Homo sapiens: one gene and its partners. The protein of the gene in region 3 interacts with the protein of the main gene of each other region in a biochemical or structural test. Each region holds a gene or a part of one and is shown on either strand. Other genes may lie near its edges. The genes, in order: ROBO4, TFAP2A and PPARG.

The links.
Region 1: the proteins of PPARG (region 3) and ROBO4 form a complex in vitro, tested with the Homo sapiens proteins (one study listed by BioGRID).
Region 2: the proteins of PPARG (region 3) and TFAP2A form a complex in vitro, tested with the Homo sapiens proteins (one study listed by BioGRID).

What each region holds. Positions count from the first base shown.
Region 1 is NC_000011.10:124,895,736-124,899,485, forward strand, and holds the start of ROBO4 (roundabout homolog 4 isoform 1 precursor), read right to left. Parts: upstream 2,131-3,750; 5' UTR 2,061-2,130; coding exon 1,991-2,060; intron 1,527-1,990; coding exon 1,197-1,526; intron 936-1,196; coding exon 778-935; intron 584-777; coding exon 463-583; intron 178-462; coding exon 50-177; intron 1-49.
Region 2 is NC_000006.12:10,408,513-10,412,162, forward strand, and holds part of TFAP2A (transcription factor AP-2-alpha), read right to left. Parts: exon of another isoform or gene 3,085-3,650; coding exon of another isoform or gene 3,058-3,084; intron 1,824-3,057; coding exon 1,389-1,823; intron 1-1,388.
Region 3 is NC_000003.12:12,411,058-12,414,707, reverse strand, and holds part of PPARG (peroxisome proliferator-activated receptor gamma), read right to left. Parts: intron 1-3,650. UniProt on the Homo sapiens protein: Nuclear receptor that binds peroxisome proliferators such as hypolipidemic drugs and fatty acids.

The DNA of each region.
Region 1 (3,750 bases), on a different chromosome or scaffold from region 3:
CCTTTCTTGAGCTCTGGATCGGCTTTTACCCTTAGCACCTGGTCCTCACCTTCCAGCTGAGCCACACCGCCGGTCTAGGCTTGGGGCCCTCTGCAGGATCCGGGTTCAGCAGTGTCACATTTTCCAGCTGAATTCGCACAGCCAGAAGCTCCACAGGCTCCGTGTAGTCCTGGGGCTCTGTGGGGAGGATAGGGCTGGGCTGGGGCTTATAGGCCAGAGTGACAGAACTGAGGCGTGGAACATCCCTCAGCCAGGGAGGAACCCCAGGGAACCCAAACTCCCAGAGTCTCCAGGTCTTGAGCATTCCGATTTCTACTCTAGCAGGGGGGAACCTCCCGCTACGTGAGACCCCCAGCACTTTGACCCTGACCCCACATACCTTAACCCCAGCCCAAACCAGAATACACCACCCCAACTGGAGCCTGCAGCCTGGCTCTGATTGTAGCCCACCCCTGCCCTTACCCTGGATGGAAACCCGGGCTGCGCGGCTCTCCCTATGTCCTGCGCTGTTGGTGGCCACACACATGTAGGTCCCTTCGTCACTCTTCTCTGCTCTTGCCATCAGCAGGGACCCCCCGGACACCTGTCAGGGCCAGGTTCACTGTGAAGTCTCCTATGTGGGGAGGGGCTCTGAGCTGGGGGGAAGTTTGAGGCCCCCTGCTCTCCCCTCCTCAAATTCTACCGGAGGATGCGGGGCTGGACGGCAGGTCAGTCCATCAGGGTGTACCCAGGTCTGCCCAGGCCAGGATGAAGTGTGGGGGAGGGGGCCACACTTACTGTGTGCCTTCCGGGCTGGAGGGCCAGGGGTTTCCCATCTTTCCACCATGAGACTGTGGGCTCTGGGTGGCCCCAGGGCGGCCCACATTCCAGAGTAAACTGCTCACCCACCACAGCCACCATGTCCCGAGGCTGGATCTGGAAATCCTCCCGGAGGACTGTGGGGAGGATGGAAGGTGACACGGAGCAGGGCCCAGGCCTCTTCTCTCTCCCTTATCACTCTTGCCCCCTTCTGCTTTGCCCACCTTCCTGGCCTCCCATTTAGGGCCAGCCCCGCCCCAGCTTGCCCTCCCAAGCCTTCCAGCCCAGGCCTCTGCTCACAGGTATCCCACTGACCTCTCAGATGTTCCCTTGAACATTCAGCTCAGATGTCTCCACCCAGGTTTGCCCCACCCTGAAGCTCCCCTCCCAGGCCTCACCAGCCACAGACAGCCGAGCGCCTCTGCTGACTGCCGTGCCAAGCCGGTTGCTGGCCTCACATGTGTAGACACCCAGGTCTGTGGACAGGGCCTGGCCATCGTGGGCATGTCCCCGGGCAGGGGGCTGTAGCAGCAGAAGGGTCCCATCAGGCAGGAGGTGGTGTGGGTCTGGGGGCACCATGCTCAGGGGCTGCCCATTCAGCAACCAGCGGATGGTGGGAGGTGGCTGGCCTGAGGCTTGGCAGCTCATCCTGGCAGGGCCAGGGCCCTGGAACAGCTGGTCCTGGGGGTGGACTAGGATCTGGGGCGGGGAGTCCTGAGCCATGCCTCCTGGGAGGGAAAGGGAGCAGAGCCCAGTCTGATCACCAGCAACACCCCAAATTCCTGGCCCACCCCTCATCTGTCTTCTCTTGTGTGCGAGTTTGCCAGAAAACCTGTAATCTGAACTACTAAAGGTTGCCTCCCAAAGAACAAGCCAGCTAGGAGGAGAGAGGGCCAGCATGCACAGCATCCAGGCCAGGGCTTGCATAGCATGTTCGCTCTCTCTCTCTCTCTCTCTCTCTTACTTTCTCTCTTTCTTTCTTTCTCTCTCAGTCTCTCTTTCCTTCTTTCTCTCTCTGGTGTGTGCGCACATGCACAAACACACATACACTTACACACACTCATCATCATCATCCTCATCCTCATCTCTGGTCCCCCCACTGCAAAAGGGAAGCAGGCAGTCAGCAGGCCCCTTCTGCCCTGAGCAGGCCTTGGATGGAGGAGCATGGGCCAGGAGAGGGAGAGCAACTCACCCATGATGAGCAGGAGCAGCAGAGGCAGGGAACCCCTGCCCCCCAGGAGGCTGTCTCCTCCAGAGCCCATGGCTACTCTCAGCCCTATGTCCTTGTCCCGAGCACTTTGTCCTGCTGCTCTGAGCTCACAGTGAAGAGGGAAGGAGGGGCGGGGTGGGCCGGTGGTGGTTGTTTGTGACCGAGACTCTGCCCCAGGAGGGAAGCGGCTTTGAGGAAACCGATGCTTCCTGCCTGGCCCTCAGTGCCTTGGAGAACTGGGAGGAGACCAGAGGCGAGAAACTCTCTGACCTCGACCATTTAGCTATAACCCCCGACCCTAACTTCAGCGCTAAGCTTTATCTCATGATCTACTCGGGGATTTCTTACAGGGTATCCTTACACTAACCAAAACTCCGATCAGAGCCTTAATCCTCTATTTAAATCTTATCCCTGGATCCCAATCCTTATCCCTTTGACACCTGCTAGAGAAGAGTGAAAACCCCAGGAGTCTCAGGACACAGCAAGAAGCTGAAGACAGAGGGCAGTGGGGCTGCAGGCTGGGGAGGCTGAGTGAAGTGGAGCAGGGGTGGATTGTAACACCCTCATCCATTTCCCCAGTGCCAGATGGACCAGGAGGTGGCGTAGGGTGGGAGACAGGAAGGACTCAGCATCTGGGACAAGCTGGGAGATTACCACAGGGTGTGTCCATATTCAGCTCAGAGATGGATGAAATAAGCTTCTGTGGAGAACTTGGGCAAGTCAGTTTCCTTCTCTGTAAAATGGAAATAATAATAGTAGTTCCTACCTTGAGGGATAAAGTAATGATGAAACACATAAAGCATAAAACCACTGGCATCCAGTGCCTGACTCATTATGAGTGATCCGTAAAGCTGAGCCAACATTGTGTATTTCTTTTTAGGCCCATCCCATCACTGAAACTATTGGAGGATCCTCGGCAGGAGTATTTTTCAGGCCCTGGAAAGGTGGTTGGAGTAAAAGACCTTTTAAGAGTCTTTCCAGTCCCAAGAGCCTGTGTCCATATATGTAGCAGACAGGCCTTGCAGGTTTTGAGCCTACAATGTCAGCTCTTGCCCGCTGCCTCCTTTCCCCCACAACCTAGACAGAGGCCACACTCCCCTGTCAGATCCCAGCTCATGTTTACTGGCCTCTTCCTTCCAAATCTGGAATCTCAGCCATTTCCTGGAGCTGTTCCCGGAAGGCCAAGGCCAGGCTCTGGGGCTCAGCGGAAGAGTATCCAGCCTTTGTTCCCAATTGTTCCTGGCCAGCTTCTCTGCAGGGCCCCTAACCCAGCTGACGCCCTCCCTTCCTCCCCCTTCCCATCCTGGCTTCGGTGCCAGCCACAGACTAACAGCCTGCCAAGTAGAAGTCTCCTTCACTCCTCCTCTTTCCTCTCAAACTCAGACCAATACTGACAAAGACAGAACTGGAGCAAGGAAACACCATGGTCTCTACAAACTGGGGAGTTTGCAGAGGCTAAAGAATAGGCAGAGTGAAAGTCATGGAGTGGCAGAGCTGGAAGGATAGGAATTGGGGCCAGAGAACAGAATGTCACTACCCTTGGCACCTCTAATTCTGAAATCCCAAATTCTGTTCTCTGGCCCCAATTCCTACCCCAAATTCTGTGGGTGTATCCTTACACTAACCATAACTCCAATCAGAGCCTTAATCCTCTATTTAAATCTTATCCCTGGATCCCAATCCTTATCCCTTTACCACCTGCTAGAGAGGAATGAAAACCCCGGGAGTCTCAGGACACAGCA
Region 2 (3,650 bases), on a different chromosome or scaffold from region 3:
TAATCATAACTCCCAGTTCATGTTTAAATTGCTCTTATATAAATTAGTGCTCCTCTCACTTCCAAAAAAATGCACTGTTAAGTATCAGTTTCTAAAAACATGTAAGTATGAACACACATATACAGACATACAGTGCTCACTAAACCTTATACTGGATCAAGTGCCCACTTTCCTGCCTTCCATGCAAGGGCTGCTAAACATAACCAACAAATTTCAGTGACTAACTGGGCCAAATGAGAGATGTAATAAATTTTCTATTTTCCTACGGAACTTAAATAATGTTTTAAATTCACCAAGCAAGGAGGTAAGTTCATCTGACCATTTTCCTTACAATCTAATGTAGTAATCATTAAACTGTCAACGGACATACTGCTGCAATATTTGATGCAGTAATTTGAAATAGCATTTTAGTAAAAATCACATCCAGATACATTTCCTCTCCAAAGAAAAGCAGCTTTAACAGAAGCCTTTACAGCTTTAATAAAATTATTGGCTTGCTCTAATTCCATTTCAGGAGGGTTGTGAGGAAACCATAAATATATAGAATTGAAGCAGAGGTACTGGTTTAAGTTTAATTCCAGAAAGTATTTTCAAATTATCAATAGCCTGGTTTGCATTGTAAATAGTAAATGTGCTAATGCCATGCTTATTTAGAAATCATTTTAAACTGCATTTATTGATAACTAAATTAGAACTCAAATAATGTATTACCCAATAGTCTCGAAACATTTAATTTAATATGGAGTGTAGCAGGTTCTGATAGGCGTTGGGAACCTAGCTAATGATTTATGAGGTCACCACTTAGCACCCCTAGTAAGAAGAAGGCTGCATTTTAATGTCCCTCTGCTTGGATTTGCTACTTAGTTTTTCTTTAATCAGGATAGGGTGTACACATAACTTTTAGGTTTCACTTGTGCTTATAAAATCCGGTTAAAATGATCTTAGTGTGTCTTTTACACTTCCTTTTACATTTTGAGGACATTTAATGAGCTCTTTTGGTTGCATTTAACATCATTCCCAGGACAGGGAGAAATCTCCACGCCAGACTCAGCGATGGAAGTAGATCTTTTAGCAATTGAGACAGTTTACTGTCGTCGAGAGGAAGATATTGTTAATGGTGACATTCGTCTGATTTATCTGTGTTGGTGGAAATGGTAATGCAGGCATTGTTTGAGGGAGCTCCAGAAACCATTGTTCTGGGGTAGAACTCGCAACTACTTTGTGTGGTTCCTCAAAACGTCCCTCACTCTCCGCCTCCGAATAAAATGTTTTTATAAGGAAATACTAGGGAGAACCCGGGCCCACCGACTGTATGTTCCAGGTATCCTTTCTGGGGTAGGTAAGTAGGGGGCTGTGTTCCCTCCCGCGCTGGTTGCGCGGCCTCTTACCGGGACCTCCTCGATGGCGTGAGGTAAGGAGTGGATCGAGAGGTCTCCGAGTCCTGAGCTGAGCGCGTGTGGGCCGTGCAGGAGGTCCTCGTGCCGCCTGTAGTCCCTGCGAGGATCCAGGCCCGACAGCTGGTGAGGCAGCCCCCGGTGCGTGTGCAGGAGCCCAGACTCCTGGCTCTGCCTCTGGCCGGGCCAGCCTGGGTGCTGCGGCTGCGGCTGGGCGTGCAGGGGGTTCAGGCTGTAGGGGTCGTTGACGTGGGAGTAAGGATCTTGCGACTGGGGGTAGATAGGCTGGTAGGGTGGGGGGAAGTATGGGGGCTGGAAGTCGGCATTGGGGGTGTGGGACAGCGGCGGGGCGCTCGTGTAGGGAGATTGACCTACAGTGCCCAGCTGGGGCAACCGTGCCGTCCCGTTGCTGGTGCCGTCGTGACGGTCCTAGAAGAGAGCGAGAGGAAAGGTAAAGAACAAGGAATCAGGCGTCGAGCTACAACTATCCACACAAAATCCACTTGACAAGTCTGCGTGGGAAATCGCCCGTTCCCGTTGGCTGGCCGCCGGGAAAAAATCAGCTCTAAGTTCTTTTCAGGAAATACCCTCAAGTGAAACAGACCGAACAACGCAGAGAAACTGTATATGGAGGGGGCACAAGAGACTATTTAGGGGTTTCTTTCAAAGAGAGGAAAAGATAGAAAAGGGTCTCCTGGAACACAGCCCATTAAACTGCAGCGTGAAATCTCTCTTAAGCAAAATTAAAATTCCTCCTAAATACTAAACAGCAGAAGCGGCCTTTTCTTTTCCCCCGATTTGAACCTGTCTGCCACTGCGTTATTGTTTATTCTCTTCCATTTATTTGGAGAGAAAAAAATCATAAACGTTCAAAGACTGTTACCGTTTCATGACTACTTAAATAGAAACATATTTCGCAGAGGGGCTGTAACAAAAACACACGTTTAAATTACCAGCTTAAAGAAGGTTTTAACTGCAGGATCGGGGTCTGTCTTTTTCGCTTCCTCTGTTAGGAGCCTTTTTCTCGACAGAGTCGATTTATGGTTTGGATAGGGAAAGGGGGACGTCAAGTCAAGGTTTAAAATAGAAAGATTCAGCCTTATTGGGTTTAAAAGAGAGAGGTGCACCCCGGGGCTGTGGCCCCCCCCCCCCGCCCCTTCCACCCCAGCCCCAAAGGGCAGAAGAAACGCCTGACTTTAGGTTTCTCTATTGCAATTCCCTTGCAAAACAAGCGAAGAGAGTTGATTCCAGAGACCGCGAACCCTCGGCGGTTCGGCCGCAGGTCCCGAGGGTAGGGGGCACACCGCGCTGCACTTTTCCTGCAGACAGTTTAAGCATCAAATGTTGAGAACATCTCGGGGACAAGTGAAGACTCAAGGAAATCAAGATGAACGTGGGGAGAAACACGCCTTGGGAAGCCGCGGCGAGGTAGGTCTGCGTGCTCGGAGAGGTCGAGCGGGGGCTGGGGTAGGGGGTAATGCACTCGATTTAGGGATGGAAAAGAGCGAGAGAAAGGCGGAAGGTGGGGTGGGGGATGCAAATGGAGAGGGTGTCCTGAAGGAAAGCTGGGCGTGAAACCCGAGGTTTCGGGCAGCTCCACGGCACCAGGTTTCCAGAATCCAATTCCTAAAGAAACAGCAACGGGGGTGGGGATGGGACTCACCATGGCTGAAAAACTGTGAACTAACATCTGCGAAGAGTCTGGGGTAACGAGTCAGGGTGGAAAAAAACAAGCAAGCCTGGAGCGCCCGGCTGCCCCGCCGCCCGAGCGCGCCCCACACAAAAGGCGCCGAGAGCCCCGCGCCACCCAGGACTCCAGTCACGGCGCCGACGCTCCCCGGAGCGCGGGAGCCCGGCTCGGATCCATCCGAACTTGAACCACCGATTCGCGCGGCGCCTTCAGCTGGTCGAACCCACGGTCTCTATCCTGCCGCGACTGGTTATGATTCAAAGTTCTTTAAAAATGAAAAACCCCAAAAAAGGAAAAAGGAAAAAGTATGTGTGAGTGTGTGGGTGCGTGCGTGTTCCTTAATCCGTGTCTCCCCCTCTTTTCTTAGCGGCGGCTTCGCTTGAGCTTCTAATAACCGCGCTGGGCAGCGTTCCTGGAGCCTCCTAATAGCAGATATTCATGACTATTAATATTACACGAATACTTAATAAGGGAAGAATGCCTGGAAATCGAGCGTGAAGCGGAGAGGCAACTCGCGCCGGAGCCGGCTCTCAATGCAGTCCATTGACGGGAGTCTCAGTGTAGCA
Region 3 (3,650 bases):
TTTTTCTTTTCAGGATTAATATTATTAATGGGAGGAATACAAGGGGGGCAGAGCAAGTAACATCGATGAAAATTTACTGTATTTTTCCAGAACGTCAGGTTCTAATTATGAGAAAAATGTGAATGGATAATGATGCTTTCACAGAACCTAGAGAAAACGTGTTTCTTGTCCTCCAGGCATTTTACAGTGTATTATAATTTATATTAATGAAATATTTACTTTCTTTTTCTAAAAAAAAATTATTTCATTTTTTGAGATGAGGTCTTGCTATGTATGTTGCCTGGGCTGGTCTTGAACTCCTGGGCTCAAGTGATCGTCCTGCTTTGGCCTCCCTAAGTGCGTGCTAGGATTACAGGTGTGAGCCACCACAACTAGCCTTTATTGGCTTTCTTTCATGTCATGAGAAAATGATGATCTGGACACCTGAAAAGACCAACTGCACATGCAGGAGTACAAATAACATGAATATAAAATCATCACCTTTTCACATGTGGAAAGACTGTACCCAGAACTGCCCACTTCAACTTTCAGAGCTTCTGCTCAACCATTTGGCTTCTTGGCACAGAACATATGCATGAAATTCTTTCACCTCCATGTAAGTGATTTATCTGGAACTATGCCCTGATAAATCACCCTTGTCACTCTTCCCCTTTACTTCCCCTGTCCCCTCATATAAAGCTCCAGGTTCCTGTTTTTGAAACTCTGTAATAGTTGAACATAGGGCACAAAATCCTGCTAATTTTCTCTCCCAATTTAACAACAATGTGACTTTAACCCCTTGGCAATTGATGTTGGTCAGGATTTCCTGGCAGTAAATACTCAAGGACAGAGAGAGGAATCAGCACCCCACCATCATGCCAAACCATTTCATTTTTTTTTTTTTTTTTTTTTGAGATGGAGTTTTGCTCCTGTTGCCCAGGCTGGAGTGCAATGGCGCAATCTAGGCTCACTGCAACCTCCACCTCCTGGGTTCAAGTGATTCTCCTCAGCCTCCAGAGTAGCTGGGATTACAGGCACCCACCACCACGCCCGGCAATTTTTTTTAAATTTTTTTATTTTTTAGTATAGACGGGGTTTCACCATGTTGGCCAGGCTGGTCTTGAACTCCTGGCCTCAGGTGATCCACCCACCTCTGCCTCACAAAGTGATGGGATTACAGGCATGAGCCACCATGCCCGGCCCCATTCCAGCTTTTTCAATCCTTTCTGCATTCTGAAGAAGAGGTGAACTAGCAGAGAATTCTGGGTGTTGACATGCAAATGAACACCAGTTGTTTTATTTTTTCCCTAGTCATATCTGATTATACTGTTTTCACTGCATTTCCGAAGGCTGCATAGATTCTTTCAGCCTCCAGGTAGATCTGTCAAACTGCAAGAGTGATCCCTGGGTGGGCCTGGTCTGCCTTTCTTTGCAACCAATTCACCAATTCTTAGATAGCAGAGAGTTCACTTTCATATTTCACAGGGGACCTCCTTACCCTCAAACCTAGTGAGAAGATCGTGGCCAGCCTGCTTTATGGAGAGAGAACCTCTTAAAACCCTGGTCAAATTTGGTCTGCATTTTATCTTGAATCATTAATTTAACATGACATTTGGTACAATGTGGTACAATGTTCCATACAAAATGTACTGCACTTCCATGGCTGTTTTTTTGTATTTTTTACAAAGCAAAGTGGAGTCCTTACACTTTCCATCAGCTTGGACAGTATCATCCAAAGATTGCCATTATAGGAGCCGTATCATTCTCAAATTTTGTCTTAATGATTTTACACTTCTAGTTGGGGGCTAACAGTGTATTTATCTTCAGACCGTACATCAAAGGGCTGGGTAAGCGTCCCTCCTTAACAGGAAAGAAAGCTTAATTACAAATGGGACATGATGGGGTGAATTCAGGTTTTGTGGGGCATAAAATATACACAGTAGTGGAGTCTCTCTAAGGAAAATATTACAAATTATGAGAATAAAATTGCTTCGGCCCTTCCCCAAGCACTGGAAGGACTTCTGCACAAGGGAAGGGCCCCATGAAGCTTCATTAGCTTCATGGTGAATCTGTCACTGGTCATTGTGTGCTTGTGCTTTTCATATACTGGACAGACCAGAACGGAATGAAGAAAGCTGCACTTGAACCCAGTGTTTTTCCAGGAAAGCAAAATGATTTCTGTAAGGAGAAATCAATTTTTTGAGGGATACATCAAATATAATTAATTTTGATATATTTCAATTTTCAATATTTTGACATTTTGATTTTCAATTTTGACATATTTTGATTTTCAAAAATATATTTTGATTTTCAGGATGGGATTAAAAGTACTGTTTTATATAGATGAGTAAATTCAATTATAGATCTATGGCATGCTTCCTATGTAGAATACAAAGACAATGGGGGAAATGGGATTAATGATGAAAATAGAGTAATTAATTTTTTTTTTACCTTTTTGAATGGAGAAATAGAACAGTAGTGTTCCTGAGAAATCCAATAACATCAGCATTTTAACATGAGTTATGAAAGGTATTATACATGAATGCCCTAAGTTTACACTCCTTTTGAATAACAAAATAGCAAGCTACGGGAGATAAACATGAAAATCACTCAAAAAGCACAGGGTATTCTGGGTGACTTTTCTAATTTGGCAGATTGAATGAGTGTAGTCAACCCCTCTACCCTCTCTCAAACAATCACTTGAGGTAACCCTGTCAGAGTGAAAACTGGCTTGGAAAAATGTGTGCCTCATCGAGTGTGGCTTTCCTGATGTTCTTAGTTTTACCAGGGAAAGACACTGAATTCTTAGGGCTCATGTTCTTCATTTTGTTTCCTTCTTGCTTTTTACACATCTGACTTTCATCACCTTTGACACACCTGGTTCTCCTCGGTTAGCTACAATCCAAAACTCATTGGTTTGGTTTCCTCAGCCTCTCGTTGGTTTCTGCCCCTGTTGTTCCCGTTTCCCTCTTGTTGAGAACTATGAGATTTATAGGACATAAGGGGTCTTCAGAAGTAATCTGTCCCATCATTCTCTGACTAATGGATAAACGGAAGCCAGAGACATTCCAAAGTCAAAGTGCCATTTATAGCAAACCAGGAACTAGAACCTAAGCCCCGATTCTGGGTTGAGAACTTTTCCCTTTCCATTGCTTTCTATAGGACTTCCCCACTTCTTTTTTTCCTTTTAAAATGATTGTTCTAGGATGAACTGGAGATTTTAAACTAACGCTCTTAACATGCTGGGGTCTTGGGGCAGGGCCTTTTGAACCACTGTTTCCTAGAGGTGCTGGTGGAGTGCTGTGTGTGATAGAAGTGAAGTTTGAAAGCTGTCAAAGATATTCTGCTTTCCTGCAGGGTTTAGAGATTTACGACAAACAAATGAAAACTTAATATGAAGAATTATTCACATGCTAATGAACTAGCACATAACCACAGCTCTTAAAAAAATCAATTGCCAGCCAAAGAGTTACTCAGCAGGCAAACAAGGGTATTGGCCAACTGAGTCCAGCCATTGGAAAAAAAAAATCCAAGTGCTTTTCTTTTTAACTCTATAAAATATTATTTTTAACTTATTCTCTGAAAGAACACACTGGTTTAGATCTTTTACATCTTTAGCTATTCCTGACAGTCCTGGCAATAGAAGAATTTATTTTATTAATATTGATACA